Linked DNA regions of Homo sapiens: region 2 is linked to region 1. Evidence: fine-mapped expression QTL. A gene starts in region 1. The other region holds a variant in brackets. All regions are shown on one strand. Distances are from middle to middle.

Region 1 (16,414 bases):
TTTCAACTGAATGTGCAATGTTTTACCTCTTATAAATAAATCTGAGGCAGTATAATAACATGTTAAGTAGTAATAAAGCTCCTAGGTGGCCGCTACATTATATTATTCTCTATAAATTTCTTTAGGTTTAAATAATAAAAATTTAGGTGAAAATAGGCGACTCTATCATGGCTCAACAACTGTGGCCATGGGAGTGCTGGTTAATAAATCAATGTTAACCAATATATTGGGAGGTGGGTGCTTTTTGGTTCTGCCTTGGACAATGCTTTTAAAAACAACTTGGAAAAACGTAAAGAAGCCATGAAATTTGTGAATGAACCAAGATGCTGAGATCAATAGCAAATGTGTTGAATAAAATGATCGCATACAAAAAGATGTTGGCAAAGTGGAATTATGGGCTGAATCTCACCGGCTTAAAAAAAAAAAAAAGAGAAAGGAAAACTCTACTTTGTGTACTTCGTACATGACAAGCACTGTTTTAAGTATTTTACATATATTACTTAATTATTGTAATAACCTTATAAGGTACATTATTATTACCTCTTTTTTACATGAGGAACTGAAGCAAAGGGAAGTTATATAATTTGTCCAAGTTTACAAAGTTAGTAAGTATTGGATCCAAATACTGACCCATCTTGGTATAACTCCAAAAACTCAGCTCTTAATCACTGTACAATACCAAGGTTAAAAAGGCGTATGCCTCAATATGTCCCAAATAAATGATACAATACACAATGGAGAAGACACGGCTTAACAGCCCACGTTTTAAAAACGTTTTTTGTTTTTGAGAATAAGCACAATATGGGTCAGCAGAGTGATTTGTAACAAAGTGACTGCCAAAAAAACATGCTCTATCTCAAGCTGCATTAATAGAAATATTGTATCAAGGAGCCATGGTCATGCTGTTCTGCACACTGCCTCAGCTCCCACCTGCTCTGTATATCACACATCAAGGAGCACATCCACAAAGACAATAGGCAGGGTTTGAGAGACCAAGAATCAACAATGGTTCCTAGGAAGAAAGTTTTAAGGACTTGGGACTATTAGCTTGGAAAATGGACAACTCAATTCAGGGGGCAGTCATGATAGCTGTCTTCATATATATATATCAAGTGCCACATGGAAGAGGGATTAGATTTTTTTTTGTGGTCTCAAGGGGGTAGAAAAAGAAACAATGTGAAACTTAAAAGGAGAGAAATGATGTTAAAATACCAAAAAGAACTTTGTAGTGGTCAAAACTGTCAGAAGATGAAATAGACTGTCTTGGCAAGAAGAGAGTTCCCAGGATATGGATGTGTCACAGCAGAAGTTCCTTGCTGGGGATGTTGTTGAAGCTTCTAATGGGACCATGGCTAGAAAGACCTCTCTGCTAACGCTAAAGCATACTGATTTGATGATCAACTCCATTAGTGTAAAATCATTGTCCACTTAGAGACCTATTTTTATGGTATGATTCTTAAGTGTCTCCCTGGTCAGTCCCCTCTCCCTTCCTCCAAAAAAAAAGTAGACAGCTTCCAGAATGAGAAGTCTAGGACCTTTGTATTAACCCAACTCTGTTACTAGCTTTATAATATTAAAGGAATAATTTAACATTTCCTCGCTTTAATTGTTTTCATTTATAAAGAAGGTCCCTCTATCTGTCTCACCTACCTCATCTGGATTTTAGTGAGTATGCTAGGCTGTCTCATGTAAAAGTGCTTTAGAAAATTACAACAATATGCAAGTATAATTTATAATGCCTACAATGTAAGTTCTGTTTACCATATATCTGGGACCCCCCCAACCTTTTCTGACACTTCTCTTATCCTTGGATTCTCTCTGAGCTTCCTTAGAATTTATGGCATTTTTGTTTGTTTTTGCTTGTCTTCTTCATTAATTTTACAAATCTTTGTTGTTATTGTTACATGTCAGTCATGTATTAGTTACTGTTCTAGCCACTGTTGGAAAATAAAACCTTGAAGGAGACAACATTTTCCTCAAGGTGTTTGCCATCAAATAAAGATCTCTACCAATACATACATAACATAATGCAAGGCAAGATATTTGAATGCCTTAAGAATAACATAGATAAAATGCTATAAAAGATCACAGGAGAGTGGGAATTCAAAGATGTTTGGCCCCAAGAATCACCCTAGGAAAGCAGGATATTCTCCTCTTTCTTTCTTATCCCCAAGTCTTCTGGGACACCATAGAAGCTGGTTCTCTTCAAGATTATGAATTTCTGCATTGGTGCTAACAAGTGGTCCAACTATCCAAGCTCTAATTTTTACTGCCTTTGCATTGGCTTGAGGAGAAAGGTATGGTTTTCTCTATTTATTTTCCTGTAGAAAGAGAAAAAACACTTTTTCCTATAGAAAGAGAAAAAACGCTGAAGCTCAGCAAGGTCAAGTACAAGTCATAAATTGTTATGTAAGGCAGACCCTCATCATTGTAACTATCTAGAGTTTCAGTGCACAAAACAAGGCCTGTTTCAAAGAGTGATTTATTACAAGTTTGCTTTTTTAGGTGCTTAATAATGCCCACCCAATAAGATGTTTGCTTTATCCTGGGATCAGGCTGACATCTCTTTTATGTGCAGAGATGGTGGAGCTGGTAGAGTGTAGGCTAAAAGGAAATTGCAAACACTGGGCAAGTAAGTTGTAACAGGTTCCATAAACTCCATTTGATATGATAGTTAAGTCCTAGAACACTTTCTGTAAAGCATCTGTCATTGGTTTGTCTGTGTGGAAAGATAAACACGAATAATACTGATTGAACCTTTAGTATATTCCAGGCTGATGCGTTTTATATGTATTGTTTCAATTATGATTATTCCCATTTAATAAACAAGGAAACTGAGTCAAAGTGATTGGGGAATTTTTCCAAAGTTACTCAGCTAGAAAGTGGCACAATCAGGGCCCGGCGCGGTGGCTCACACCTGTAATCCCAGCACTTTGGGAGGCCGAGGCGGGCAGATCACGAGGTCAAGAGATGGAGACCATCCTGGCCAACATGGTGAAATCCCGTCTCTACTAAAAATACAAAAATTAGCCGGGCATGGTGGCGTGCACCTGTAATCCCAGCTACTTGGGAGGCTGAGGCAGGAGAATCGCCTGAACCGGGGAGGCAGAAGGTGCAGTGAGCGGAGATTGTGCCACTGCACTCCAGCCTGGAGACAGAGCAAGACTCTGTCTCAAAAAAAAAAAAAAAGAAAGTGGCAAAATCAGGATTTGTATTAGGATTGTATAAAGAAGTCATATATGAATAAAGAAATAAATTATGTGTAGGCATACATTTAAACAATATATACATTTGTTTATACACATCTAAACACACACTTAAATTTACTTTCCCAAAATTATTTTATGTCACAAAAAATGGCCCATATAAAATAAAATTCAGAAAACAGACAAAGCCATGAGAAGGAGAAGTACGATAATCATGTAAGTTTAGTCTGTGATTGGTCATCAAATGTGAAAACAAAAAGGGAAAAGGGTCGTCCCTTTTTAATGCCATTTTGCCCAAGTAACCAACCATTGTTTTTATTTTCATAACCCTACATTATAAAAATTAAGTAAACTCCATGAAAGCTATGATTTTTTCTGATCATATTTTAAGTTTCGAGCATAACTAGCATTTAAAATTTCTTGGTATTTATTCTCAAATGAGGTAATAAACATTTTAAAAGTATTTCCAAAATGGTAAAATACTACATTAAAGTTAGCTCTAAGCCTCTTTTCCTTACTTAGCAGTGAGGCCCTACGGACCACACAGTAGAATGGAATTCTATTCTATCCCTTCTCCTAGGAGCAGGTAGTTTTCCTTTTCTGGCATCTGACATGCACAAGAGCACATGGAACCCTCTCAATAAATATTCTGCCAAAGAATATTGAAAAATGGCTTATGCTGGAACATGACGCCCAATGGAAATACGGTACCAATATATAATATGTGTTTAAAAAGGTGTCATTCTCTCAATCCGAAGGCCTGTGGACCTAACAATTTTCTAGTAGCAGTAATGACTCATAGGAAGTCACTGCAATACACTTTATGTTCTTCTGCATCAGTCTTGGTCAGTTAGCACCTTGCACTCTCAGAGGTGTCCAAACTGGAATGCAAAGTCCTGGGGCATGTGCTAAGACTCTATCATAGGAATCCACACTTCTATGGACTATAGAAGAAATTAAACTCTTATTTATTTTTTATCTCATGCTTTTAAATTTTGTTTTTGTAAATATATGATTTATAATAATAAATAATAATCTATGCAATGGTGCATTTTTTTTTTCTTTTTTGGTAGAGACAGTGTCTCTCTATCTTGATCAGGCTGGTCTCAAACTGTTGGTCTTGAACTCCTGGCCTCAAGCAGTCCTCCTGCCTTGGCCTTCCAAAGCACTGGGATTACAGGTGTGAGCCACGATGCCTGGTCCAGTGGTGAATTTTTAATGTGTACATGAATATACATATTGAGACTACATGCTCAAACATTTTACTGATAGCAATGTGTGATCTAAAAGTTTGAAGACCGTACCTCTAAATAATTCTGCTAAGCTAAGTGTAATTCAACAAAAATATCTTGTGACCATAAAAATATGAAGAATGTTTTCCTATGGTTGGAGGTTGGGGATAAGAGTGGGGAGTAGGATAGGCTTTTCTATTTTTCACAACATAGTTCTACTAGCAAATAATGCACAACACTTCACTCTGCAATTAAATGTAGCAACTCCTGTCGACTTTTTTTCCTTTTCAAAAAGGAGCACAGTGAAATTCTAAGAAAGTTTTTTTGGTTTTCCCTCCAATTCCCTCTTGCCTCTGAAGTTCATGATTTGGAGGGAAGGGTTGTCAAATTACTCAAAACCTGTGCTGGGTATTAAAAGTCCTCGGTTTAAGTTCCTTCTTCATTATCATTCTGTGCAATATGGAGCAGGCTATATAACTTGTCCCTGACTCATTTCTCCTATGGGTAAACTAGAGGTGATAATACTTAGCACTGACCTCAGAGCAGTGTAGTGTGGATAAAGAACATTTTGTTCCTTGTGTCAACTAAATGAAACTGCCATTAATAGACTTTTTTTTTTTTTTTGAGACGGAGTCTCGCCCTGTCCCCCAGGCAGGAGTGCAATGGTGCAGTCTGTACTCACTGCAACCTCCACCTCCTGGGTTCTAGTGATTCTCCTGCCTCAGCTTCCCGAATAGCTGGGATTACAGGTGCCACCACTACGTTCAGCTAATTTTTGTATTTTTAGTAGAGACGGGGGTTTCACCGTGTTGGACAGGCTGGTCTCGAACTCCTGACCTCAGGTCATCCACCCGCCTCCATCTCACAAAGTGCTGGGATTACAGATGTGAGCCACCGCGCCCACCCCTAATACAAACTTTGATATTATCTGTTTAAAATGCTGTGATTGGCTGGGCGCTGTGGCTCATGCCTGTAATCTCAACACTTTGGGAGGCCGAGGCAGGTGGACCACCTGAGGTCAGGAGTTCGAGACCAGCCTGACTAACATGGTGAAACTCTGTCTCTACAAAAATACAAAAATTAGCCAGGCATGATGGCAGGTGCCTGTAGTCCCAGCTTACTCGGGAGGCTGAGGTGGGAGAATCTCTTGAACCCGGGAGGCGGAGGTTGCAGTGAGCTGAGATCACGCCATTGAACTCCAGCCTGGGCTACAGGGTTAGACTCCATCTCAAAAATAAAATAAAATAAAATGCTGTGATTTTTTATATACTTTTCCTTTTAAAAATGATTTTTCTAAAAAAATAAACATCACATTTCTAAATACCACTTTGTTTTCTGAACTTTTTAAACTTTTCTGATTTTGTTTCTCTTTCTCCCTCTTACACAGGAGTGCTCACATGCACACATACACTCTTTTAACAACTTTATGGATGCGAGAGAAAAACCTTAAGACAGCATCAAGGAAATAAAAGGGGAACTGAAATAAGTTGCCCTAGTTGGGTTTTCTTTAAGTTTTAAAGCTACTTACCTAGGCCATAAAATCGTAGTGTTTATGTAATCTCCAAAATGTTTGTATTTGAGAATAATTCACCAACTCTTAAAACGGAAGGAACCCTAAGAAAACATCTAGGCCTAAGATAATGCCTGACACATAGTAGATGCTGAATAAACATTTAATTGAGGGAATCTGGAAAAGCTTCTTATTTTAATCTTAAAAATCAAAACCAAGTCTGAGCATTGGAGAGGTTAAGTAACTTGCTCAAGATTGCTCAGCTGGTTAAAGAGTTTAATCTACAATTTATTCCTTCTAATTTCCAGCTTTGACTTCTTTCCACCAACCTGTTGACTTATGTGTATTGAACTGTCTCATATAATCTTCTGAAGTTGCATTGTTGAAAAACAATCAGAAAGACCAGTCCTGAGGTTCATCATCTCCAAAAGTCATGCAACATATGATGTTCACATGAGATGTGAAATATGTAAAGAGTCATATATTTTTATATATAATATGCAAAATATAAATCATGTATATATTGAATCAAAGGTCTGTTTTGAAGGCTAAGGGTCAATAGCCAATCTTCCATGACTTATTTTACCTAACAGCACAGTTTGCATGTCCACACAGGTGATGGCAGTCCACTGACCAGTTAAAAGTTGTTTGGCTATTTCAGCAAAATGTTTATCTTTGTGTGTTGTTATATTGATTTTTTTGAATCTACCTACGAATGAGGCACTAACAACCTCAATGCATTAGAGTCCTGATAAACTTATCTTGCACTATTTTGGCCTATGTGATAGCTAACCCATTGACAAAAGAAATCCAAGGTGATAAAAGCCTTTCTTGGCCACTTGTTAGCCGGGTCAGGCTGTAAAATCGTAACACAATGCAGGCCTCTTCCATGGGGCACCAAAAGGCAGCGATGAAAAACCCCCCTCACTTCCATATCCAGTGGAGTTGTAGTTTATTACCATAACCCTCCCAAGTCAAAAGGACACCAGTTTCAAGCCTTGCAACTTGGTGCAGACAGGGGTTTTCCCCTTTACCCCACTCTGCTGGGCCTCTTTACCTGTCCTCTCCTACTGTCTACAGGTCCCGAACATTAGAAAATAGAAAATGTGATGATCTTTGTGTGTCTCTGTAAAATGTGTGTATGTGTGCGTGTGTTTGGGTGTAACGGGCCTCTTGTTTGGCTGCGCGGCCTGTCCGTCACTGCGCGGGCCAATGGCAGGCTGCCTTATATAAAATGAGTGTTTTCAGTCTCTCCGGGTTGCATGTACTGTATGTGGAGCAGTGTACAGTGAAGCGGAGGCAGAGCGGCTCCGCGAGCTTCTCTCCACTTTCCCATAGAGAAACCCTGACTGGCCGCTGAGGGCTAGCTACACACACGCCCTCACGCCCGGCGAGCCCGCGAGGTAGGCGCCCCCCATCCCCAGCCCTCCCTGGGCGCACTCCCCTCACTTTCTGTTTTCCTACTCACTTGCGAGCCGCCGGGCTGCAGCCCCAAGGACTCCGCGGCAGGAGCAGCGGCGGCGGCGGCGGCGGCGGCGGCGGCAGCCGGTAGGGTGGACTTGAGGAAGACGGAGGGAACCCCGCGCGTCCGGAGCCGCCGCCAGCCGGCCCGCTCCCTGGGCACTTTCCCCCTCCGCCAAAACTTTGGGTCGGGAGAGGTCGGGGGCGAGGGTCGCGGCGGCCGCGCCGGCTGGGGCCGGGGGGCGGGGGGCGCTGAGGCAGTGCCCTGCGAGCGGGAGGCTGGGGGCCGGGCTGGGGAGTAGTAGGCCAGCCGGTGCCAGGCTGCGTTTGCAACCAGCACCTCTCGGCACACAGGCAGCGCCGCCTGAGAGGGGCACGGGCGCCGGGGCGCGGGCTGGAGCGGCCCCAGGAAAACAACAACAGAGCCCTCACGCCGGCGGGCGGCTCGTGGCCGCCCGGGGAGCCCCAAACTTCATCTCGGCGAAAGTACGTGGAGCCCTGCCTGGTCTCGGCTGCCGGGGAGGTGGGGCCTGGGGAGCAGGGGCAGTGGAGGAAGGTACGAGGAGCCAGCCTTCGGTGGATTTATTGAACGTTTCGTCTGCGTTGGTGACCGGGAACAGCAGCCCAGTTGCTCGTTCATCTGGAGAGTTGGGATTTGGGTGTTCCGGCCCCGCAGATCAGTGCCCTCTCACCCCCCACCCCTACCCAAATGCGCGGCGAGTAGAGAAAGTGCTGTTTTAGTGCCAGAGTAGCCTGGAGGAAGAATAGGGGGAGAGGGGGAAGAGGGCGAGGGAGAAGGGGAGAGAGAAGAGGGAGGGAAGGGGGGGGAGAGAGGGAGACAGAGAGAGAGGGAGAGAGAGAACGGGAGGGAAGAGAGGAGGGGGAAGAGGAGGAGGGAGGCTGTGTCAGGATTTTGCTTGAATGTGGGATTATGTTGTGTCAATAAGTTTAAGGTGGAGAGAGCGAGGCTGAGGGTGGTGGTGGAGGGGAGGAGGAAGGCCTTGGCCGTTTAAAGTCTTATTTCTGAAGGTAAGTTACGGCTTTGCCTGGTCGCGATGACAGAAAACTTGCAGATCCTTTATCCGGGGATGGGGTCGATGCCTCTAGAAAGAGCTCCCTAGCCCTCTTAAGCCACACTCGTGTTACACTGTTATTTGCTGCGATCCGGGTCGCTAGTAAATTACAGAAATCAGACTCGAGGTTTCTTTTCCTCCTCCACCTCGTCTCGCTCACTCACCCTCTGAAATTTATTATCATATTTTATTTATTTTTTGGTATTGTATGAAACTTAACATAACTGAGACCGAACCCGAGTCCTGTAATTTACAAGGACCCTGAATCCCAGAATCTGGAACACGTTTATGTGTGAAATAGCCGCGATCATTTCTGCTAAATGAGGAAGGTAAAACGAAACGATGCAAAAAGCTAAGACACAACATGTACGACAGAGGGGGGGGGGGGGAGAGGGAGAGACAGAGAGAGAAGCTATTTTTTGCTTTCCTTTCTGTAGGAAGGAAAATAAAGCGTGCATTCCCCTTCCTTCCCAGTGTGTAGGGTCTAGTCAATATTTTAACTGTCTGTGGACAAATTAGTCCAGGTGGATCTTGTTGAAAAGTTTCGCGAGGTGGGGTGGAGGTGGGGGGGGGGGCGAAGGGGAAGGTGGGTGGAGGTTGTGGGGGATGGGGACGGAGCGAGCTCTGCCTCTGCTAATGGTCATTGGCCTGGGGCTTTGAAACCATTGCCTGTCCTGCTAATGACACGTCCAGTTCTCTTCTCCCGGCCGCGGACGCCGGGCTGCCGTTCCCGGGGTGGCTGACTGGGACTGGGGTACTTTCCCCGCGCGGGGAGGGGCGTTCTTCGCCATCTCCTGGGGTTGCCCACTGGCGGCGTGGGGGCCCCCACGCGGCCCCCCGCCCCTGCGCGCCGCCGCCACCTCTGCTCGCGCGACTTTTGTAGGCAGCCAGCGGCCCAGGGGCGCCGGGGGTCCCCGGCGCCGACGTCCCCGCGCGGCCACCCCGGGTCCGGCCCCACGCGCTCTGCGCCGCGCGGTCCAAGCCCGGAATGGCAGCGCCGGGCCGGGCGCCGGCGGTGCCTCCCTGGGGGGCAGCGGAGGCAGAGGCAGTGGCGGCGGGATCTTCGCCGGGGCCCGCGGGAGGAGGAGGAGGAGAGGGAGAAGGAGGAGGGGAAGAAGGAGGAAGAGGAGGAGAGGGAGGCGTTTTCTGCCCAGACCGCCGCCAGTTCGAGCAGGCACGGGCACGGGGACACCCCACTCGTTGCTCCTCCGTTATGGAAAGGTGTTTAGCAGACTTTTACGCCCGGAGTGTGGTATTTGCACTTCATTTTTTCTTCCCCCCTCTTTCCCAAAGCAAGATGGACTCTATTCCCTTTCTCTTTCTCCCACTGCCTCTGCCTCTGTCTTGTCAGCCTTTAAGATCGACATTTTGTACTAAGATGCAAACTTGATGGTGACCAGCAACAAAGCCGGGGTGGGATCCCTCGCTCTCTTCCTCCCTCCTTGTTTCCTAGCTCCCCCCACCCCGACCTCGCAGACCTGGTGGCCCTGCACTTGCCGCTGTGGGCTTTGGCGAATGTGTTTTCCCTGGTCGGTTCCTATCTCCAATCTGGGGATTGTGACCCGGGCTGGGTGTTTGGGAGACGGCAGTGGCCGCCCAGGTCTGAAAGGCTGAGGGCTTCGATACCTGGACCCGCTGCCGCCGCGGTGGCACCTCCCGCCGTCTCCTGGGCAAGGCGAGGCTCGGGCTGCCTATCGATCCCTATGATTTGGTTACTGGTGTGTTTGTCCTGGGGGCGGTGATCACTTGTGCAAGTTGATGAATGATCGCGGTGTGGTTTTTGCGTTTGCAGAATGGATCAACTTTCTGCTTTGTACATGTGGGGAGTAGGAAGCGAGGGTACGGGAGATACCCTAGAATGCCAGTTGGGTTGCCCCCCAGCCTCTGCCCTTTCAATACGGGGAGCTTCTTTGCCTTCTGTTCCCACAGTTCTCCAGTGTCGGGGGGTGGTAGAGAAAGGGGAGGGGTTAGTGGGAGCTGGACTCCTGGGTTTTGGTACCTTCTCTTCATAGATGTTACAGGACTTGGGACTGTACTATTGTAAAGCCCTACTATACTGATGATGTACCTTTATTTGATACTTTATAGGTCACTATCATATGACAAAGGCTTTGCCGCAGTTCATCTTCCTCCCTGTGTACTTTCCATTTGCCTTCCTGGGTAAGTATGCAAACTGTTCGTACAGGGAAGCAGGATGACAATTAGTAATGACATAAGGGTCTTTATTGTTCACAGAGGAAGATGCTTTATTGGGGTTACAGCACCCCAGAAACCTTGTCTCACTGAGTTTCCCACAGCATAAGTCAGTTTATGATTCTTAGTGTTTAGAATTCAGCTGTGGGTTATTATTAAGATAGTAAATATTCATTTTGTGTTTATCTACAAGTAATTGTCGTTTCAAAACTTATTCTCAAATAGACATTTTAATTTATAATGAAATTTTACATGGCATTGAAGGTCTAGTAAATTTAATGCTAGACAATACTATAGGAAGAGTGCAGTGTATGAGTGGAGAGAATTATTAAAAACCCAAGGAAGCATTGTGCAGAAGTCCTCTAATTATAGTGACTGACATTTGCTTACTCTCTCTCAAGTTCTCTTTCTTGAGTAACCTGTGGTGTTTGTAACAGTTACTTTTGGGGTGGGGAAAGGTGGGATTGGCAGTGTGGTAAATCTAGCGTTTAGTGCACTAATTTGATTCAAAATTGATCATAATTTCTTTTAAAACTTACATGTTTGGAGAAATTAGGAACAATTCGGTAGCCTGTAAATTTAATAAACAAAGACTTTGAGATCTGTTGTTAAGTGCCTTTTTCAGATATATGACTCCCAAGTGGAAAAATCTGCAAAATATGTGTGGGACAGTAAGTGTGTGGAAAATTTGTGAGAGGTAACAGTGTGGGTAAGAACTGAGGGTTTACAGAGCATTTGAAAGCAGCACAGTGAGCCTAATCTGCAGAAAACCACCTTGTAAGTTTGCCCCTCCATTGTAAAGGAACACCCCAGGTACTCTTGAGTTGTTGATGTTTGGAAACTAGTACTAAATTGTGTAAATCAGCTGTAGTGCTTTGTAATATTACCATAGTGAATTTAGAGATTGTATTTTGTGAATGAAAATGAACTTGAACTTACTTTTCTGTGAAAGAAAATTTAGAGACCTCATCTGTGGTGTTTCCTGGATTGCTGACATAATGTGTACATTAACAAAATTATTGTCTTTGTATTAAGAATATAAAACTGTTGTCTTAGTATTGAGTTAGAGGACTAGACCTTTCTGGTAGTGTCCATTTGGTAACAAAATATACTTTCATGTTATTGAAGACTTTAGATAATCTATGTAAGTTTTGCATTGAACATTTAGAAAATCTAGAGAACTTTAGATAATCTGTATATGTTTTGCATCGAACATTTTCTATGGAATATAAATATTGCATTACTGCTGATAATTAGGTGGTTTGTTCACTAAGAGCTCAGAATACATCACATACATAGCAGGCCAATCGGAGTGTCAAAATGAGAAGGTTCTATAAGTTGAATTTAGTGCACACTAAAATACATGGATTTCATTGTCTTTGAGTTTTTTTAAAGCTTGTTTGAAAAGTTTCATTTTGGGCAAGAGTATTCAAAATGCATTCTTGATTACTAAAGAACACCACATTTATACTGTTAGGCACATTATTTTGTTCATTGCAACAAACTGTTAATATTCCTTCCCCATGGAAATGTGTTTGACCAATTCAGAAATTAATATGATAGGTTAGTAATGTTGAGAATAAAAGTCTGATAAGTGCTTGTATTTCTTTGAGATATCAAGTGACTGCTTCATTAAAACAATATTTTCAAGAACAGTCTTGGACTTTGAAGTCAGTGAAGTAGTTCTGATAGTGTAAATCTTGTAATAGTGATCTAAAAAAAGTCATTTTGACAATGAATTGCCAGTTATTGGCATCTAAAATGTATCTATTAGATTTGAGGCTTACTTATCAAAATAAGAATTTAAAGACGTTTTTGCTTCTCCATTTCCAAGTGTTTCCAAACTTCCCATTTTATTATTCTGCATGTCTCTGTTAGGTTCTGAAACTGAAGCCCTAGTTTGCATTTCACATTTAATGCTAGCTATTGAAAAGGTGGCTCATCTATATTGTTTCCTAGTGTTACCTCTTTGGAGGTACTGTGGCAGTTTTAGGAAAAATCTTTCTCTAGAGACATAGATGTTTTTTAAAATTTGCAATTTTTGAAACATTAAGAAAATGTATCTTGATCTTCGTATCCATTTTTTTGTTCAAGGTATATGAGTTTTTGAGATAGCTGTGCTTTTAACATACTTTGAAAATGGTATATATAGCACTTTTGACCTTATAGATCTGATTTTTATACTTAATCCATTAAAACAGATTCATGTAGACATTGAATTTAGAACATATCTTTGAATGAAAATGAGGTTGCACATATGATTACGATTGGCCTGTGCCGTAAGTAACTACGTAGTTGATAAGTTTTCTGTATGTTGTAAAAATAAATAGGTCTGAAGATGTTGTGCAACTCATGAAAATCTAACTCAGTAGCTAAAATATTTATAAAGCCACACTTTTCAGTAAAATCACAGGCAATTTTTAATTACTAGTCAATAGTCAGCCTACTAACAGTATATGTTTTCTTACATTTCATAAAGAACATGGGTAAAAGCAAGGGGTATATTTTTAAGTAGATCTTGTCATGAATTTCAATTACTTTTATATTAGAAATCTTTAATAGAAATGGTAAAGGCTTCACAGCTCTATACTACTAAAAAAAGAACTTTTTGAAAACAGTTCCATTACAGATGTGCCTTTTTGCTGTACTACAGGAAGTCCCTGAAGTTATTATTAGTGTCTTAAAAAAGTATATAAAATGTTGACAATTGTTACATCAAATGCTCCAAATTACTAAATATAGGCATTAATTTTAACATATTACATTACCACCAACGTGGCATACCTGTGCTTTAAGATTTAACCTTAAGCAGGTGCTTAACTTAAGAGGAAGATGCTTTTCTTGAACTTGTACCTTGAAGTCCATCTCATTGTTTAACATTTCACCACTGAGGGTACCTTTTGAAATGGGCCTGAGTGGTATCTCTCCTGTATTTTTTGTCAGATTCCTTCTTGTCACTATGAAATGAAAACAAACTCAACTTTACTAAGGACATTGTAATCTTACTGCTTTGTTTTTATCGTGTGTCCCAGGGAAATCAGATGCAGGCAGTCCTCAGTACACTGAGCAACACTGCTATGAAGGGAATAGGTAAAGAGAAAGACTGAGACTGAATGGAGGCTCTTCCAGCTTGAAGATTCTGTGACTGTCATTCAGTCACTGGGTGTTGTACTACCTCAAGGGTAGTCATCACATACTGTGTCTAATTGTCAGTATTTCTGTATTTTAAGTCATACCTGTGGAAAGCACTTTTTGATTACAACTTCGCTCAATGTTCATATGTGATATTATCCTTTAGAAGGCAGTTATATTTCCTTGAAATGCCAGTACATCATTTTAAAACTGTACAGATATACCCAGAAAATCCTCATGTATTAATGGGGATTGTCTTCATTTTTTTTTTTTTGCTTTCAAGGAAACAGGTAAGAATTGAAATAAGTGCCAGTTATGTGAGAGAATACAAAAGAAGCAAGCCAGTAAAGAATTTCATCTAAAAGTATATATAAATAGAAGATGAGAGAATGAAAGACTTAAAAGATTAAATGTAGACCATGAAGCATTGATATTACCAAATGTACCAAAATGTAAACTTAATAAGTTAAAATATGTAAGTTCGAGAATCTAGATAGTGAAATGACTTCAGATAATGAGAAGGTTTGTATAAAATGCAAAGTGACAGGCTAGGTTTGGTGGCTCACACCTGTAATCCCAGCACTTCGGGAGGCGGAAGCAAGTGGATCACCTGAGGTCAGAAGTTTGAGACCAGCCTGGCCAACATGGTGAAACCTTGTCTTTACTAAAAATACAAAAATTAGTCAGGTGTATTGGTGGGCACCTGTAATCCCAGCTACTTGGGAGGCTGAGGCAGGAGAATCCCTTGAACCTGGAGGTTTCAATGAGCTGAGATTGTGCCACAGCACTCCAGCCTGGGCGACAGAGCAAGACTCTGTCTCCAAAACAAAACAAAACAAAACAAAACAAAACAAAACAGAAAAACACAAAGTAACAATGAGAATGAATTGGATTTTATGAAATCTTAAAAAATTAAAAATATTTTAAAATGTTGATTAAATAATTAAGCCAATGGTTAAACATGGTCCTCGGATGAAAAGTTCAGGGAATAAAACAAACTCCTGGAACAGAATAACTGAACTCTTAAAAGGAACATACAAGGTTGCATTTTTTGTAATAGGAATAATTAAATAAAAGGCCAATAACCTACTTTAGAGGAGAAATAAGAATGGGGTAAAAATTATTCAAAACAGCTGTATTTCTCAAATACTTTTGACTGAGGTATATTATAAAAAATACCTTTAACATCCCAATCCACATAAAAGAACTGAAACAAGTTTCCTGAAACAGGACAAAGTGCAGTGCCCTCTGATATTTTCTATTCCTAACTAATCTTTATAAATCCAATCTGTTTCAAGCCATTTTATTAAACAAAAAATACTAGGTATTATCTATCAAATTGATTTCATGACTTATAGTTTGAAAAACACTGGCCTAGAGTGCCTGCTTGCCTTCTTAGAAATGGAGGTCTCTAGGCCTCATCCTTTGATATTCTCATTCAGTGTTTCTGGGGTGGGGCCATGGAATTTAGATTTTAGCACATGTAGCAGGTGATTCTAAAGCAAGTAGGAGGTCCTCCAATTGACTTTGAGAAACCTCAGTACAAAGGACAGATGGCCTAAGATTGGATGTTCTGAATGTGGGGCTGAAGTTCATTGACTTTATGAGGTGTCTTGCATCTTCACCATTCTTTGGCTGTATTTCAGTCAGTATGTTTGCAATACTGAGGAAGGTCCTCATCACCCTCTGTAGGTGCTCCTGTAGTAGAAGGTGTAGTACAAGGAACAGAGGCCGTACCACCAAAGAGCTCTAGGTTCCACTCCTGCTGCCTCTATTGCTTATTAGTTGCGGGACTCTGAGCATGTTACCTCACATCCCTTAAACTTTTATTCTCATATGTGCACAATGGGTATGGTAATGTTTACCATGCAATAATATGGGGATTACACAAGACAGTAATGAATGTAGGACCCTTATTCACAGTTAGCGCTCAATATATAGTCTCTGTTTTTGTAATTACATCTCATCTCACCCTACCCTCCACTGTTTGAAATTTCTGAAAGCCTTTTAGTTTTTTTTTTTTCTCTAAAGTGATTCTCACCTCTAGTTATCATGAAACATGGGTATGTTTTTAACTAGACATGAGGTGCTGGACAAGTAATTTGTTAGGGAAGGAAATAATAAGAGTAACCAGAAGGAGAAAAGCCAAGCACAGCTGAGGCACGCCACAGTAAAGTACAGTCCTCCTTCAGGTTTGGGGAATGATTTTCCCACCTCTTTAAAAAAGTAGAGTATGGGATGAGAGAACAGCTCTTTTCATATTTCACGGTAGTTCTCCCTTGTCAGCACAGGGCATTCTCTCTGGTGACTTATAGATATTAGAATGTCTTAGAGTATCAGTTCTCAAACTTTCTTCCGTCAAGACACATGTGTAATCCCAGCCCTTTGGGAGGCTGAGGAAGGAGGATTGCTTGAGCTTAGGAGTTTAAGACTAGCCCGGGCAACATAGTGAGACCTTGCCTGTACTAAAAATAAAAACAAATTAGCTGGGGGTGGTGGTGTGTGCCTGTAGGCCCAGCTACTCGGAGGCTGAGGTGGGAGGATCACTTGAGCCCGCACGGTTGAGGCTGCGGTGAGCCATGATCGTGTCACCGCACTCCAGCCTGG
Region 2 (16,414 bases), 820 kb before region 1:
GTTATTCCGTAGATAAGAAACTAGCAGCAACACTCTAGTATTGAAATAAAAGGAAAACACAAAGACTTTTAACAGACCATGGAATGGCTGACATATCTCAGATCCTCTTCTTGCCTAATTTGCTGCTATGAGATCTGTGATCCATTGAGAGAAAATTAAGCACTGGGAGATATTCACAGCCGGGAAACTTCTGGGCAAATGATTGTAGTCCTGATGCTCCTACTCTGCACAAATATGATTTTATTTGCTTCCTTGCTTATCTACATTTTCAGCATCACTTCTCGGGATAACAACACTCCAGCTATATGAAAAATAATATGGACGCTAAGCAATTTTTTCCTCATATAAAGGTAATTACTTTAGGTGTGTTTTTATTTTGTTTATTTTAATTTAGACATCCCTCATTCATATCTTGTATTTTTAGGTACATGAGCTATCTCATGGGTAAATCACCAACAACTCAGGATTACAGAGCAGACACACATGCACACTTGTATATGCACACACACGAGCGTCGGTTGTTTTATCATTGCAAATAGCTCTTAGTTATGCACAACCTGTCCTCTTCCTCATTTTCCCATTATGCAGGCTTCCCTGCCACATACGTATTAGAAATATTTAGAAATACAAGGGTTTTCATTGGATCTCTCTATGAGAGATTCCCTATCGTTGATCTGATCAATGACTGGAAGAGAACGCAGAGAGTGTCAGGGGGTCAGGATCATGGAGGACTCTGGTAGTTGTAGGAGGGCTGGGAATTGTGGTTAAGGCTAATGTGGATTGTGGCACCTCTAGGCATTGGTCCAGAGGACAGAGCCTTCATTGGATTGGTCCACCCACTGACACATAAAGTCATGTGGTAGAAATTTTTCACATTAGCTTAGGTTTAAAAAAAAAAAAAAAAAAAAAAACTGCAGCCTTCTTACAGACATAACAGGAAAGGAAATCTCCAATATGTGACATTTCAAAATTCTGCCTGCTCTGCCTTCCTTACTGCACAATCTCTTAAGTAAGAGTAAGAGCCTAGTTTTATGCGTTAGTCTAGTTGCAGTAAAATGATAGCTAATTGGAGGAAATGATATTGATTTAACATTTGCTAAATCTGTGAAACAGACCTATCTGCCATCTTTATGGTGAAATGGTACAAAAACAATGTCATACACTGGTCATGTATCATTGCATCTGGGTTCTTATCTCTTGTAAATTCTTCCACCCTCTAGTATTCTGCCTTTTCGAGCTTCAAAAAATTACACAAATTTTTATAATTAGAGGACTTCGGGTAGGTCAGGGTCTTTATAAATATACTGAAGTGGACTTCTCTCAAGTTTCCTTGCAGAGTTTATTTTCAGACTTCTTGGACATGAAACAAAAAGAGACAGGAAGCCTCACAGATAGATTTTGCATCAGACAAAATACTTTTGAAATATGAACTAGATCACCTCTTTTTTCAAAGGTGGGGAATGTCTATCTCTCTTTTATTTGTTGATTTTCTAGTTTGCGGTAGTTGGGAGACCTTATATTTCAAGTCCCTCAGGACTTTTCCTGCTGGTTGAAGAAACTCATGTCAAAATGGACATTTCCTAATAGGAGAGCACTAAATTGTCTATGAAAACAGATTATAACTCTATATTTACTGTTATAAAAGCATAAAAGCATGCTGCATGGAGAACCTTGAATTTAATGGAAGGAGAAGAATATAGAGTTTTCATAAATTTATTTTTTGCAGTTATCTCCCTTTACCTTTGTAAAGCAGAAAACTAAGCTCCTTTTGTATCAGCTTGGTATTTATTGACATATTAATACTTAAAAACACTAAGAATAATAACTGAGATGGAGAGAGAGAGAGACAGACACAGTGAATCAAAATCTTTTCTACCCACATGTATTAATCAAAATATGCTAGGTGTGGTAACAAAAAATAATCTTGTGGTTTTCCACAGCAATGATTATTGTATAGACAGATTCTGCTATATGTCCAGCATAATCTCTCCCTACTTGCAGTTAGGAGCTTCACCATCCTGTAGCTGCATCATCTGCAACACTGAGCTTCCTTGATCAATAAACAAGAACAGACTGTTGGAGGCCTCATCCTACCAATTCAACGCTATGGCCTGTAAGTGACAAAAACCACTTCTACTGACAGCCTTTGGCTGTCAGAAATTGGCTGCATGGACAAGATTAGATGCAAGAATAAATTATGTTTATCCTCTTATTTGCCCAGAAAGAGAAGTAAAAGAAATATGGGTAAGCATTCCCACTCCCACATTATCTACCTCTGTGTTTCTCAAATTACATTTTCTTGTCCAGAGCCAATTTTTTTTTTTTAAGCTAGTAAGGAGATCAGGGTAGGGAAGTGGAGACATTATCAGGGGAGGGAGCGAGTTGGGGTGGTCTCAAGCAGTTTGTTTATATCTCAGAAATGGTGGTAGAATTAAAGTCACCAAAAAACACAAGCCCTCATCTCCACTGCTGTTCTATTTCACTTCCCTGTGCACATACGCCTCATAATCTGAAGCTACAAGGCAAACTCCTTATTATGCCTTATAGGACTATAGGATTAATAGATTTGCATATAGAAATATTGTTTAATATTTGCATTTTAATATGTAATATGTAATCCTCAATTGTTTCTTGAGTAATTACTCTAATATTATCTCTACTATTTTTATTACTACTTCTACTGTTATAATTACTTACTATTAGTTAATATTTATTGGTCTACTGAGCTAAGCAATTTAAATATGCATAATTTTCAAAACAAACATACAATGTAAGTGTAATTATCCCCATTTACTGTAAATAAATTGGACAACAAAGAAATTTATAATTTGTTAAATAATGAATCCAGATCTATCTGACTCCAAAGTCCGTGATGTTCAACACTATGGGTAACATACAGAGTAATAGGGATTTATTCTCATGCCATCATCTGTAATCAGCTATCTTAATACCTAAGGTTCTAGGGTGGCAGGGTAGCTGTGCTAGTTGCTGAAAACGTTTCACACAGAACTTAACATGTTTTGGGCATTTGAGTGTTTAATAATGCCAACATATAACACTATTTTTTTAAGTAAGATGAAAATGCATCTTGACTATTGATTTAAATTTAGATCTGTTTTCCGAGTGTCAAAGCAACTTACTAGAAATACATCATTTGCAAATACTGCATCATCACTACACGTTGCCATGAACATCAAGTCGCTTCACTAATTCAAGTGTTGAAATCAATAATTGATTAAAACTCAAAGAGGCTAAGAATTATCCCTTTATGCCAAATTGGCTGACGATAGCCTGCACATGTAATTACAGGTGTGTGTGTGAGACAAGGTAGCTATATATTTTCTCACATTGAAAAATCACGTCTCACTCATAAAGTAGATGGAATAGTGCTCATGACTTCCAGGACACTTTCATGTTTCCGAAAATTCAGTAATTTCTCAATTATTTTTTTTTTTTTTGAGACGGAGTTTTGCTCTGTCACCCAGGCTAGAGTGCAGTGGCTCAATCTCGGCTCACTGCAGCCTCTGCCTCCTGGGTTCAAGCAATTCTCCCACCTCAGCCTCCCAGGTAGCTGGGATTACAGGCGCCTGCTAGCATGCCTAGCTATATATAGTTTCGCCATGTTGGCCAGGCTGGTCTTGAACTCCTGACCTCAGGTGTCAATTACTTTTAATTGGAAAAACTGCAGTTACATTTGCACCAACCTAATATCTCTTGTTTGTTCACTGCCAATCCCTAGAATCTAGCAAACCAATGTTTGCTGTTGTTTGATATTATGTAAGATTTCAAGTCAATCTGTTATAAAGGGCAAAGAAATTTTAAAGTCTATTTACTATTAAGTCAAATTTCATGAAATGTACAAGATCATTTTTCACTGATCTTTCACTGAACAATCTCTCAATTATCCTTTCTTCTCTGTTGTTTGCTTAAAATAAAAATATAAAACTCTGAATAAATTATTCATTATTATGACGTGTCTATAAAGAAAAAATTGAAGTTTAGAAGAGTACATGTATTTATACCCAGTTCTTTTTCCTAACACATTTGAAATAGTACATGAAATATATACAGTGCAATAGGATAGAAACATCATAAGGGCAGGTGAAAGGGAAAAATAAGGTAAACAGAAAATCAGACTCAAGGCAAAGTTACCCAAAAATGTACTGGGATTTTTAAAAATATAAGTTTTGAATTTGACTATGAGCTTCCTAATAGCCAAAACAAAGTAAAAGATACTATCATTTTATAATTTACTAAGTTTATAAGGAGATGAAATACAATTGGCCAGAAAAAGCCAGATACACACAGGAATAAAAGTGTTCACTCGTTGGAGATCACGTACTTATTGAAACCATGTTGCCAATAATATCTTTGTTATTCTTTTTCATAGAAGAGATTGCTTTCCAGGACATAGAAGAAAATTCTATAGCATCTCATTACTTTAGAATCACATCTCAGTTTTGAAATAAAACCATATTCAAAAATTACCCATAATATGCACCAGACTCATTTTTAAATGACATTTGATGGTTTCTGAAGCCCAAATCCAACTTCAAAGTCTCTATATATGATAAAGCATATTCAAAAAGTGAGTGACAGACTTTGAAAGCCATTTTCAAGAAAGTATTCAGAAATATTTTAAGTGATGTTGATATCATAGGAAGACACGTATAGCATATAGGCTCTTAAGGTGAATATTTGAGGGAGATAATGCTTATTGTTATTATTCATGTGACTGACCAAACAATCATATTCGATTGTGATTGTACAATATATGGCAGACCAGGGTGAGCACTGTGATTGCATAGTTTCTTAAATAGCGTTGGGGTACAAATAATCAGTCCTTGCCTTCGATAAATATATTCTTAGGTTTTTGCATGCTTCTGTGTGCAGATATTTATTCTCCTTTAAATGAAGTAAAAATTCCTTTAGCAAAGAAAACTTAATTCTTATTTCTTTTTACCCTTTGCCACTAACAAAGCTCCTATTAGGTGCCAAAAAATACTAATTAGATAAATGAACTCTGCTCTGATCACCTGAAACACTAGCAAACTGCCTGGCTCTCCTGTCACACGGCACATGCAGAAGTGGCCTCACAACATATTTCCACATATTTTTTCTTGAAAAGGCAGCAAGTTAATAAAAAAGAGATGTGAAATATATGAAATATTTTTATAATGTCCTTCTTCTATGCCTTGGATAAATGCTAATCCGAGATTCTGTAATCTGCATGACTGGTATAAGTGACGGAACACATAATTTTCTGATATTATTTTCTCAGGCTATTAAGCTCTGCCCAACCTTTTAAGTATATTGAATTGGAAGATCATGTTCCCACCATTTCAGGAAATTGGTAGTGTCACAGCCCAACAACTTGAGAAAATAATGTTATTTTAGACCGGAGGTAAAAAGAAGAAATGGCAACAAAGAAAGTATGTAAAGCCTCAGACTGGAAATAGTAAATACTTGCCCCGGTGATGTAAAATTTTGTCAGTGTGAGAACAGCAGCACAAAGAATATCCTTGTGATTTATTTAACTAATGAGCTTTCTTTATAGGTCTCTTATTTATACGAGCAACTGTAAATGTTAACCCTTTGGTTTTTTTCATAAATGAACACTTTCCTCTGGTAGCAGGGGTTGGGGACTGGAACGGCTCTGTTGACAATGGAAGTCCGCATTGAGATCATTTAGAAAATAAGTGAAATGGGATAGGTAAAGGCCTATTTAATGAAGACAATTTAATAAAAACCACAAAGGAATGTATTACACAAACAGATTTTATTATAGAAAAATGGAATGCGCTGGAAGAGTGATTTTTAGACTTGGTGATCTTTCAGAGGAAAAAGAGTGAGTACAAACTTTGCAACCTGTTGGCTCTTCCTAATTAGAGGTGTGACTAGAAGGGAGATGGCAAAGCAGTCTCCAAATAAGTGCTGGTTTCCTAGCAACCATGGCTCCAGTGGCTTAACCAGATTTTAAATGCAAACAATCAACCTCAGTACTAAGCCTGAAAGGGATGTTAAGTAAATATCATGGGCAAACTGCAATTCTTCCAAAGAAATGCTCTTCGGAGGCTGTGGGCTGCACTACCAGTCTTTAAAGCCCTCCACTGTGCTCAGGTGCCTGCAATGGGCTCTAAGTCAGCATTAAGTTACATTATGCCTAGACCGTCCCTGATACGCCGATGACCCTACTTATTTCCTGCCTGAACACAAGGCTACATGTGGCACAAACAGACTACAGAATTGAGGTGGCTTAAACCTGATGTGGATCGACGAGAATTTTTTTCTACTTCGTATTTTGCAGCTTATTTTATTTGATTGTGAGTATATTCTTTACAAGCTGTTTTTTAATAAATTTTCCGTTTTGTTCAGTAATATCTTTTCCATTTTCCAAAACACTACTTCAAGAGGTCACTCAATCTAAAATTCTATATGATGTCTTAAGATATCACAACCCTTAAACGCAGCATATGTTTTCAAAACACGTCTCATTCATACAAATTGTTAAATAGAACATTGGTTTGAGCAGAAATTAAAAATGGGTCAATATGAGCACCTCTAGAACCTCTTACTTACTGGCATAATATGCCCCAATACTTTATGGGCAAATACGGAATTTCTAGAAACATGACTAGAAAGCAATTGATTATCTGAGCTAGTTCTCTTGCAGAAGAGGTCTCTGACTGTCCTCAAGGTAAAACTGGAAGACAATCAAAGCCATGGAATAAACCCAGGAGCCTTCAATCTGAATGCATGATGGATACTCACCATTCGACACAGAAGACCGATCACAGAAGTAGTAGTACATTATCCTGTTGCAGGGTGGGTACAGAGGCCTCTTTTAGTAAACTTTTCTTATTAAACTTTTTATTTTGAGATGATTGTAGATTCACTTACAGTTGTAAAAAAATAATAAGAGAGATCCTATATATCCCTTATCCAGTTTCTTCATTTGAAGGGACTTTTAAACCTTGGTGTACTCAGTACAACCAGGAGCCATCAGTAGAGTTGTAATCAAGTAAGTCAGCCTCCAAAAGAGCTCTCCACTTTAACAGTTCCACATATGAGCTTTGTTTGCACGAAATGGTAACTACCACTCTTGGGAGAGTACTGTTAACAGGTAGTTCACCAGAGAGCTCTATTGAAAAGGTCTGACCAGTAGATTCAAGAGGGGAGGTCTCTGAGAGTCAAGAGGTGACTCTTGTCCTTTCTTTTTTCAGATTTGAATCAAATGGTTTTGGGGGCTTAGTGGGCATTAATAAACTATAATATTTGGTGATGTTGGATAAAGTGGTTTGGCTAAACCACTTTAATTCTTAAATTTTTCTACTGCAGGTAGGATTCCCTTGGAATACATGGTTGTAAAATTGGAGATTGGAGATCATTAGGCAGGATATTTATTAGGGAGAACTCCTGGGATCAAAACCTATGGAAGGGAAGGGAAGTAAGGCAGGAAGGTAAAGAAGCGTTATTGGACAATGAAGAAAATTGTGCTGCATGCAGATCTAACAAAGTCCACAGCCAACATGGAGGGCCCCTTCAAATTTGTTTTGCCTGCACTGAGGATGCCAGACCTTTATGTTCTTGCATTGACCAGTCACTGGATGCAAGCTGTTTGTTAGAAGGAAATGTGATCTTGGACAAAAGAGCTCTTTCCAACCCAAGGCAATTTACAGAAAGAATCAAAAGCTGAAGTCTGTCAGATAGTATTGCTCCCAGAAGCTATAGAAAATAATGCCTCATTTCTAAAGGAGAAGCCAGGCAATACATAACAGCATCCACTATATTTCATCCATTGTACTGCTCAGTTCTATTCCTTTACATATGTTCTGACTTGGAATGACAAGGGTTATAGTTACGATGAGCTTTTTCATTTTAACTGGCTTTGACTTATAGGAAGAAGATTTATGGGATGAATTAAGCCCATGCAACTGTAGCTGATCTTAGGGCTGTAATTAATCCTCAGCATCTCTCTTCTTTATCCAGGCAGAAAAAAATCAAACCAGTGTATTTTTCTAGATTTTCCTAATCTTCAATTAGCACCTCAGCTGGTCTTCGGTCTGTGGTCACCATGTGCCTCCAAGACTGTGGCTGCTGTTCTTGTCCATGCAAGTGGATCGCTTGGGAGCCAAACACAGAATTCTGTTTCATAAATGGAAGACATCAGCCTTACTTCCCCCTGATGATCAGAGTCCATTTCCTGCCAGGATTGTGACTCTTTGTGTTTACTGCTTGTCCCTTATCCAAAGGAGTTCAAGGTGACCAGGAGAAAACCACAGTTTATATGCAATAGGACTTTTGCTATGTCCATGGTAAAAGTGTTCTCCCTTTGGGTATCAGGAGTTTTAAATCTGCAAAACAGAGCCAGGCGCGGTGGCTCACGCCTGTAATCCCAGCACTTTGGGAGGCCGAGGCGGGTGGATCACAAGGTCAAGAGACCGAGACCATACTGGCCAACATGGTGAAGCCCCATCTCTACTAAAAATACAAAAATTAGCTGGGCATGGTGGCGTGTACCTGTAGTCCCAGCTACTAAGGAGGCTGAGACAGGAGAATTGCTTAAACCCAGGAGGTGGAGGTTGGAGTGAGCCGAAATTGCA[T/C]CACTGCACTCCAGCCTGGTGATAGAGTGAACCTCTGTCTCAAAAAAAAAAAAAAAAAAAAATTAAAAAAATTAAAAAATCTGCAAATCAGGATTGTGTACACAGAAAGCACAAAATTTCCATAAAGCACAACTAGGAGTGATAAAAAATGTGTGCAGACAGAAACACAAATAGAAGTGATATTAAAGATGGCTACCCTTGCTTCAATCCCTCGATTCTCGAACTCATGTATTCCACCTATTAGGGACAGGAAACTATGTAAAGGCCATCTATCTACTCATGTTGAGATTGGCAAACTATGGCAAATAGGCCAAATCCATCCTATTTCCTGTTTATATAAACAAAGTTTTACTGGAACACAGTTATAACCATTCATTTATATATTATTTAAAGCTGTTTTCACACTACAATTGCAGAGTTGAGTAGCTGCCACAGAGATCATATGGCCTGAAAACCTAAAATAATTTTTATCTCACTCTTTACAGAAAGTTTGCCAACTCTTGATGTTATGTGTATATCGCATCCTGGAAAGTGGTGCCCCGTCTTTGTAAGGAATCATCTCCAAGCTAGCACCTCAGTTTACCTTCACCAGTCCATTTTGTTGCTCTATCATGCCGATAGCTTCCGGGTGGTATAGTGTGGAGTGTGGCCAAAGGATTGCATGGTCATGTGCCCACTCCCACACTCTATTTCTGCAAAGTAGGTGTCTTCATCTGACGTGATATTGAGTGAGATCCTATTTCAGTGAATCACTTTGTAAACCCTTGGTTAGTGGTGCAGGTTGACATCCTGCAGTCAGAAAAGGCAAACTTATACCCAGAAAATATACCAATTATTGGGAAAATGAATTGTTGACATTGGAGGGTAAAGGGGGTCAAATGTAGTCAACTTACCACAAAATGTCTGGTTGGTTTTCTTGAGGATGCTGCTGCATTAGGGATAGATTATTTGTCTGTGTTGCTGACAGGTTGAAGGGTCAGTAGTGGCAGTAGATAGATAAGTCTTGATGAGTTTGAGCCCATATTCTTGACTCCACGCAGAGCTCCCATCCCTCTCAAATGGCTATTTCTTTTTTGTGCCCTTTGTGCAAGCACTGGAGTGGCCAATGACAGAGGCTGGCTGACATTAATTGGCTGGGTCATTTTGTCTCTTCAGCTGTTTAATGCCTCTTTCATAATGACAGCTTTTTGGTGACATTAGCATGCAATATAAAAATGCTGACATTTTATGTCCACTATGCAAGGTACATCTGTGTGCCTCTATTCCATTACAATGTCCCCTATCTTCCATTTTTTTCTTCTTTCAGGCCCTGGCCTTCTAGCCAAGCCATTTATTCCTGCTCATGAATCTCTATGTATTCTTGCTTTGGATTGCTTCTCTTTCCTCATAAAATGGATGAATAGGTATACCAAATGCAGCTTGCCCATCAACTTTCCCTCACCATTGGATTTTTGATGCCTCACCCTCCCACCTCCCCCACCCCTTGAGTGAGACAGTAGCATAATCATGGTCTATTTTTGGCTTGACTAACAAGACAACATATTTGTAAATAAAGCTTTGCTTTATTCCTCCTCCAAATTCCTATGTGGCCATAAATGAAAGCAGAATAAGAGGTTCTGATACAAAAGCGAATGACATGGTGGTGGGGGTGGAGGTGAAGTGAGTGGTTCGGGGAGAGATAGAGGGGGTATCTAAGTCATCTGCTTAAGATACAAGCTTAAATCATGTTTTCTGGCATTGCTTATGCATTATGACAGATACTCTACTTCCATATTACAATAGATTCCTGATGGGCCTACTTATCTTAATTCTGGATCTAGCTTCTGAGGAAAACTCTGACCACATGGTCATTTGATGAACCACAGTGAACTACTCTATTTTTACCAGTGTCCAGTGACAAAAAGGAGAAACTGTTCAAAAGGCATATAATTCTCTGTAAAGCATTGCTCCAGAATAAACTACATTATGTTTCTTCTACTGAGATGTACCAAATGCTCCATATGTGTTTTCCTACCACAGGATCTCCAAAACAGTATAAGGCCCAAGAAGCAGAGAGGTTTGTACTGCAGTCTGGCTCCGCTGCAGATCTTTCCTTCTCTGAGACCACCTACGTCATACTTTAAATGGGCAGAGCAGTTTGTGTGTGTGCATCTTTTATAACTGCCTCAGTGTTATTGTGAAAATTGAAATGTTTTAATACATAAAAGTGATTTATTGGCCTGGCACTGTGGCTCATGCCTGTAATCCCAGCACTTTGGGAGGCTGAGGCAGGTGGATCATGAGGTAAGAAGTTCGAGACCAGCCTGACAAACATGGTGAAACCCCATCTCTACTAAAAATACAAAAAATTAGCCAGGCTTGGTGGCAGCCTCCTGCAATCCCAGCTACTCAGGAAGCTGAGGCAGGAGAATTGCTTGAACCTGGGAGGCAGAGGTTGCAGTGAGCCGAGATCGCGCCATTACACTCCAGCCTGGGCAACAGAGCGAGACTCCGTCTCAAAAAGAAAAAAAAGTGATTTATTGTAGTAATATGTTTTAATTCAAACATATTGTACCTAACTTATTACTATATATTTTTCTGAATTTAATGTGATATGTGAAGTTTTATCCTTCATTATAATTGTGAGATGATTCTAAGTTACATGAACATATGTTCTTCATTCAACAACTTCCCATAGCTCAGAGACTAGAGTTTTAGTAGGTACTCATTAAATATTTGTTGATTAATGAATAAAACTCCCACTCATAATAATCAATAATCAATATCAACAATGATCAATCCACAGATAAAGTTGAGTCTTACTACATATAAGAACTACATGAGTTGCTGCGACAATATACTAACCATCATATTGACTCCAAAGGGAACTTGGTATTAGAGACATAGTATCTTAGGGCTGGAAGGGGCTTTCTCATTCAATTTAGTCACCTTTTGCAAATGAAATAAAGGCTCAGAAATGGATAGGGACATGTCTGAAATGATGTCCAACTGGTTGCATAGCTACATCATAATCTAAACTTCTCAACAACCCTCATAAACATTGTTTCCATTATAGCATTCTATATGTCATTATTTCATTCTTCTGGTTTGCTACAGAAGTAAAATGTTTTCCAGGACAGTATAAGATCTTAAAAATTTTTCCATTAAAAACACACATTAAAGCTTATTAACCTAATTTTCAAATTTGGAATATGGTGGAAGGAAGACTAATAAACAGTCATTTTGATATAAAGGAGTAAGGGGAAAAAAGTTTTAAAAACTAACATCATGTTCTTGCAGTATTGAATTAAATTTCATGTTACTTCTGTTTTCAGATACCATTCTTATTTCCAAACCAGTACCCAGTAAAAGACACATAATTTGTTAATTCATTTTTCTTTCTCCTTCCCTAATTCCACCAATTTTAACTTTCTTATATGAAATAAGTATGCAATGTATCTCGTAGGCAATGTGATTTATCTTTTCCAATTTCCAAATAAATAATGATTAACAAAAACATGTATCTAAGGCCTGATTTGAACTTAACAGAAAAATATCACCATAATCAGTTTTACATGTTATAAAAAATGTTTCAAATGCTATTAAAAATATTTGATTTTTAAACACTTAGATAATTTCTAAAAAAATTTTTCCTACTGATTATTTAGACAGGATGTTAGAAGACCTTAGGGGAGATATTAAAATCAGATGAAATAGTGATATGAGGTCATATCTACTTAATGCAGTAATAAAGGAAATGAGAAATGAGAAAACCTGAAATATATAAATATAAGGCTGTCACGACAACACACAAGTAATAATCAAAATATTTTCTGTGGCATTTGAAAGCCAACAAAAATTGCAAGGTATTGAGAATGAGCAAAAGGGTGGTTTTCTTGAAAAACTTTGACCAAAGATTTGAAGAAAATTAAGTTAACAAAGATCTTAAAATAATAATACAGTGGGAGAGTTTTTTATAGATGGCTCCTCCCAAAAATGATTTTTTTCACCATTTCAAGCGGTAAAAAAATATTTTTGGATGGAAAAAATAGAACCTAGCAATAGAATTCTCCACATAATCATGTCACAGAACTGCCCCCAGATATGTCAAATATATCTTGGCTTATGTTCTAGAATTTTTGAGATCATTAACTTAATGTGCTTAAGTGCCTTAAAAAAGAAATTGGTTATTTTCTACATTTCCATTTAAGGTTATATTCTGATTTCAGTCTTTTTAGATTGATGAAACCCTATTTGCTATATACTATGGATACCTTTTAACATTATAAAGTAATATATCCAGCATTAATAAGGAATTTTTACAAATGGAATAGGGTCATATGGTTTTATTAAAATGAAGAGATTTTGCTTCTAAATGCTAACCATTAGGAGCATAACCAATGTGTTGGGCAGAATGTGTTTTAATGTATACTCACATAGATTTGGTATTCTTACTTTTTAATAAATTGCCTTTGTAACACAGAGACCTCTTCTCTTACTCAGAGAAACTGGAAAAACCTTGTGATCTTGATGTTCTGCTCAAGCATTCTAAGAGAATTGACAATTTCCATCAGTATCCAAGCTACTTTAAAAAAATTCAGCATCTTTTATATCTCCACACCTAATTATTAAGTGTCAATCATAACTGACAGTAGGACAACAAAGCCACACAATTACACAGAAAGATATACTTTCAAATGTCATTCTAAATTTATGAAATTGGAGTTTTACAGTCCTCTTATGAAAATGTCAAAAAGTGCTGACCATAATTTTTCTGTAAGTGGTAAATACAACAAATTCACATCCTTAATGCATTCATCTTTTATTCTTACAAACTGATAAAAATCCTAGAGTCGAATTCCTGTCTTTTTATTTATTGAGGTGGAGATGCTTATTTCATATCTATCGGACATCTCAACACCTATAAAAAGTGACAGGTGTTAAATCATGTTGTGTTGTTGACTTATAAAATTAATTTATTATCATAACAAAATATTAAAATGTTATAGAAGAAATTAAAGATAAAAATCTAGCCCACTCCCAAGCTTAGGCTGCCCAATTCCTATCCTCAAAAGTGATTTGGATAAACTAAAAGATAAATTTATTATTAATCATTTTGGCTGATCCTTTCAGACAGAGTCTATGAGTTTTTATATATGTATATATATATATAATTTATGGTTGTGTTTATATATAAATATATATCAATTATATATAAATATATATAAATTATATATAAATACACATAAATGATATATATAAATAAATTATATATAAATATATAATAATATAAATATATAAATAATTTATATAATTTATTTATAAATATATAAATAAATTATATAAATATATAAATTATATAAATTATTTATAAATATATAAATAAATTATATATAAATATATATAAATTGTATATATAAATATATATAATTATATATAAATTATATATAAATATATATACATTATATATAAATATATATACATTATATATAAATATATATAAACATATATGAACACACTAGATCAAAAAATATATCCTGTTCTGCAATGTTTCCTGATTTTACTATTTACATATAATCTTACTATATTTTATTTGTACATATAATGCTGACTCATTCTTCTAAGTAACTGCACAATAGTCTAATGTATGTTAGTTTCTCAATTTGTTTCATGAGTCGCTTAGATGTATTTCCAGTTTTGATATTAGAAACAATACTCAATATTGTTTGGCTATACCTTTGATCATGTATCTTTTCATACCTCTGTGACTGCATCTGTAGGATAAGTTCTTAGTTGGGAAATTTCTGTGTCTAAGCATTTATTTGTTTATAATTTAAATTAGTTAATTTAACATTATGTTGGCACTATATTAGCTAATTATGATATATTTTTAATATAGTCTCCATATGACGCTTTTTTTTTTTTGAGACGGAGTCTCGCTCTGTGACCCAGGCTGGAGTACAATGGCGTGATCTTGGCTCACTGCAAGCTCTGCCTCCCGGGTTCACACCATTCTCCTGCCTCAGCCTCCCAAGTAGCTGGGATTACAGATGCTCGCCACCATGCCCAGCTAATTTTTGTATTTTTAGTGGAGATGGGGTTTCACCACATTGGCCAGGCTGGTCTCGGACTCCTGACCTCAGGTGATCCGCCTGCCTCGGCCTCCCAAAGTGCTAGGATTACAGACGTGAGCCACCGCACCTGGCCATATTATATATTTTGAAAGTTTAAAGTTAATCAACAATGGAACACAAGATAAATAATATTTTATAAAACAAAAATCTCAAACCCTAAACAGGGAAAATGATTTGGGAAAATAGTCGATAGCCAACATTGAAATTAAATTTTTAAAGAGCACAACCTAATGAGAATAGCAATCACTATTTTGTAAAATTTAAAATGAAAATAAAATTAGAACTTGAGTTATATCAAGATAATTAATTGTTAGAAAAACACCTATAATGGGTGTGGTAATTTCTTGAATTTTCAGTATTTGTAAAGCAATGAAAATTATTTTATGCCAAATGAAATAACATATATGTCATCAATGCAGACAGTAATTAGCCAAACATTTGAATGATTCATGTTTAAAGCTATTGAAATGGAAAAATTTCTTGAAAATGTGAAAAATTATTTTCAATTTCAACGGTTTTAACACGATAACGTGAAGTAAGTCTGGAACAAAGCTGATAGATACCTCCTAATTTCTAACCATTTTTGCTGATGTAGAACAAACATATATTTCAGTAACATATTCTGTTTTCTCCTTCACTCTTTTACTGGCTAATGTGGGGAAGGGAGACTTACTTCAGATGTTTGAAAATTATCATCACTATAATTAATTATTTTTGCATACATATATAAAGAAATGAAATAGTATGTCAATTGGAAGAATTTAAGATCTAGAGTACACAGCACTAGGCTAGCCGCTGTGTAGTAGTCAACATTTATTAGATCTCCAATTTCCCAAACGTATAGAAATTTCCCAAATATATAGAAAGTACAGCTGTGTTCGACTCTTCTAAAAAAATGAAAGAAAAAATAAATAATCCATAATCTTCCAGAAGGTTTTTCAATATTTTTTCCTTTAACAGATAGATCTAAAAATATTCTTTGAGATCTCCCTTATCTAACTTCTTTGAGAATGTGGGTTTTATTTCAAAATGCCCTTCCAATAATCAAATATTAACTTTAGCGTATGTTGTTTTATACGTATTTATTATCAGAAGAACATAAAGAAGGAAGAACCATTTAAATCTCTCTCCTATGTGTACATATATTCAGCAAGTTTCTAACATTTATAATGATTGCATTTATCGTGAAGATTATCATCATCTTAGATCATCAGCATCTGCCTGGTTCCAAATAAAGTTGCAGCAATAATACCTAAAACAGTATTCATAAAAAAGATTACTATCTCTTTAATAAAACATAAAACATTTTTTCCAGAGCTTTCATTATCAGTTCTTGAATGATTTAGTGCCCTTGCTTTTTTATTCTGACACATATCTGCACTGCTTTCAGAAGAATTCACTCATCACTTCACCAAGATTAAGTGGAATGTACACACTACACGGATCATTGTATATTAGGAACAATACGTTGGTCAACATTTGAGTCTGATTCTGTACCTAGTATTGTGCCAGGTTGTACGTGTATACAGAGAAATATGGTCCATCATTTCTAGGAGCTTCCAAACTATCTTGGGATTAATGACCAACAAAGAAAAAGCCAGACAGCAATAATAAATGACATATGACAAATGAAGAGAAAGGCAATAGAAACACTATAGATTATTTTTTTTTTTTTTTGAGACGGAGTCTCACTCTGTC

Alleles and levels. Positions count from the first base shown, and alleles are read on the strand shown. Sizes are in standard deviations (SD) of each study's normalised expression.
As copies of T replace C in region 2, the expression in subcutaneous fat of the gene that starts at base 7,206 in region 1 goes up (large effect, 0.88 SD a copy in FUSION).

The links. PIP is the estimated chance that this variant, and not a neighbour inherited with it, causes the effect.
Region 2: its variant is the best candidate, but not a certain one, in a credible set for the expression of BBX in subcutaneous fat (FUSION, PIP 0.78).

Annotation. Positions count from the first base shown.
Region 1 is chr3:107,515,757-107,532,170 of GRCh38, forward strand. BBX (BBX high mobility group box domain containing) reads left to right here and starts at 7,206. Exons shown (of 18, transcript NM_001142568.3): 1 at 7,206-7,351; 2 at 10,571-10,642. RefSeq lists enhancers at 6,823-6,872, 9,746-9,795 and silencers at 7,273-7,582, 7,613-7,702, 7,813-7,882, 9,336-9,545.
Region 2 is chr3:106,693,325-106,709,738 of GRCh38, forward strand. The region is part of intron 2 of LOC105374029 (a long non-coding RNA gene); the gene reads right to left. Among named protein-coding and RNA genes, the nearest start is that of LINC00882, 540 kb to the right of the region's middle. The variant T/C (reference allele first, on the strand shown) is at 8,604.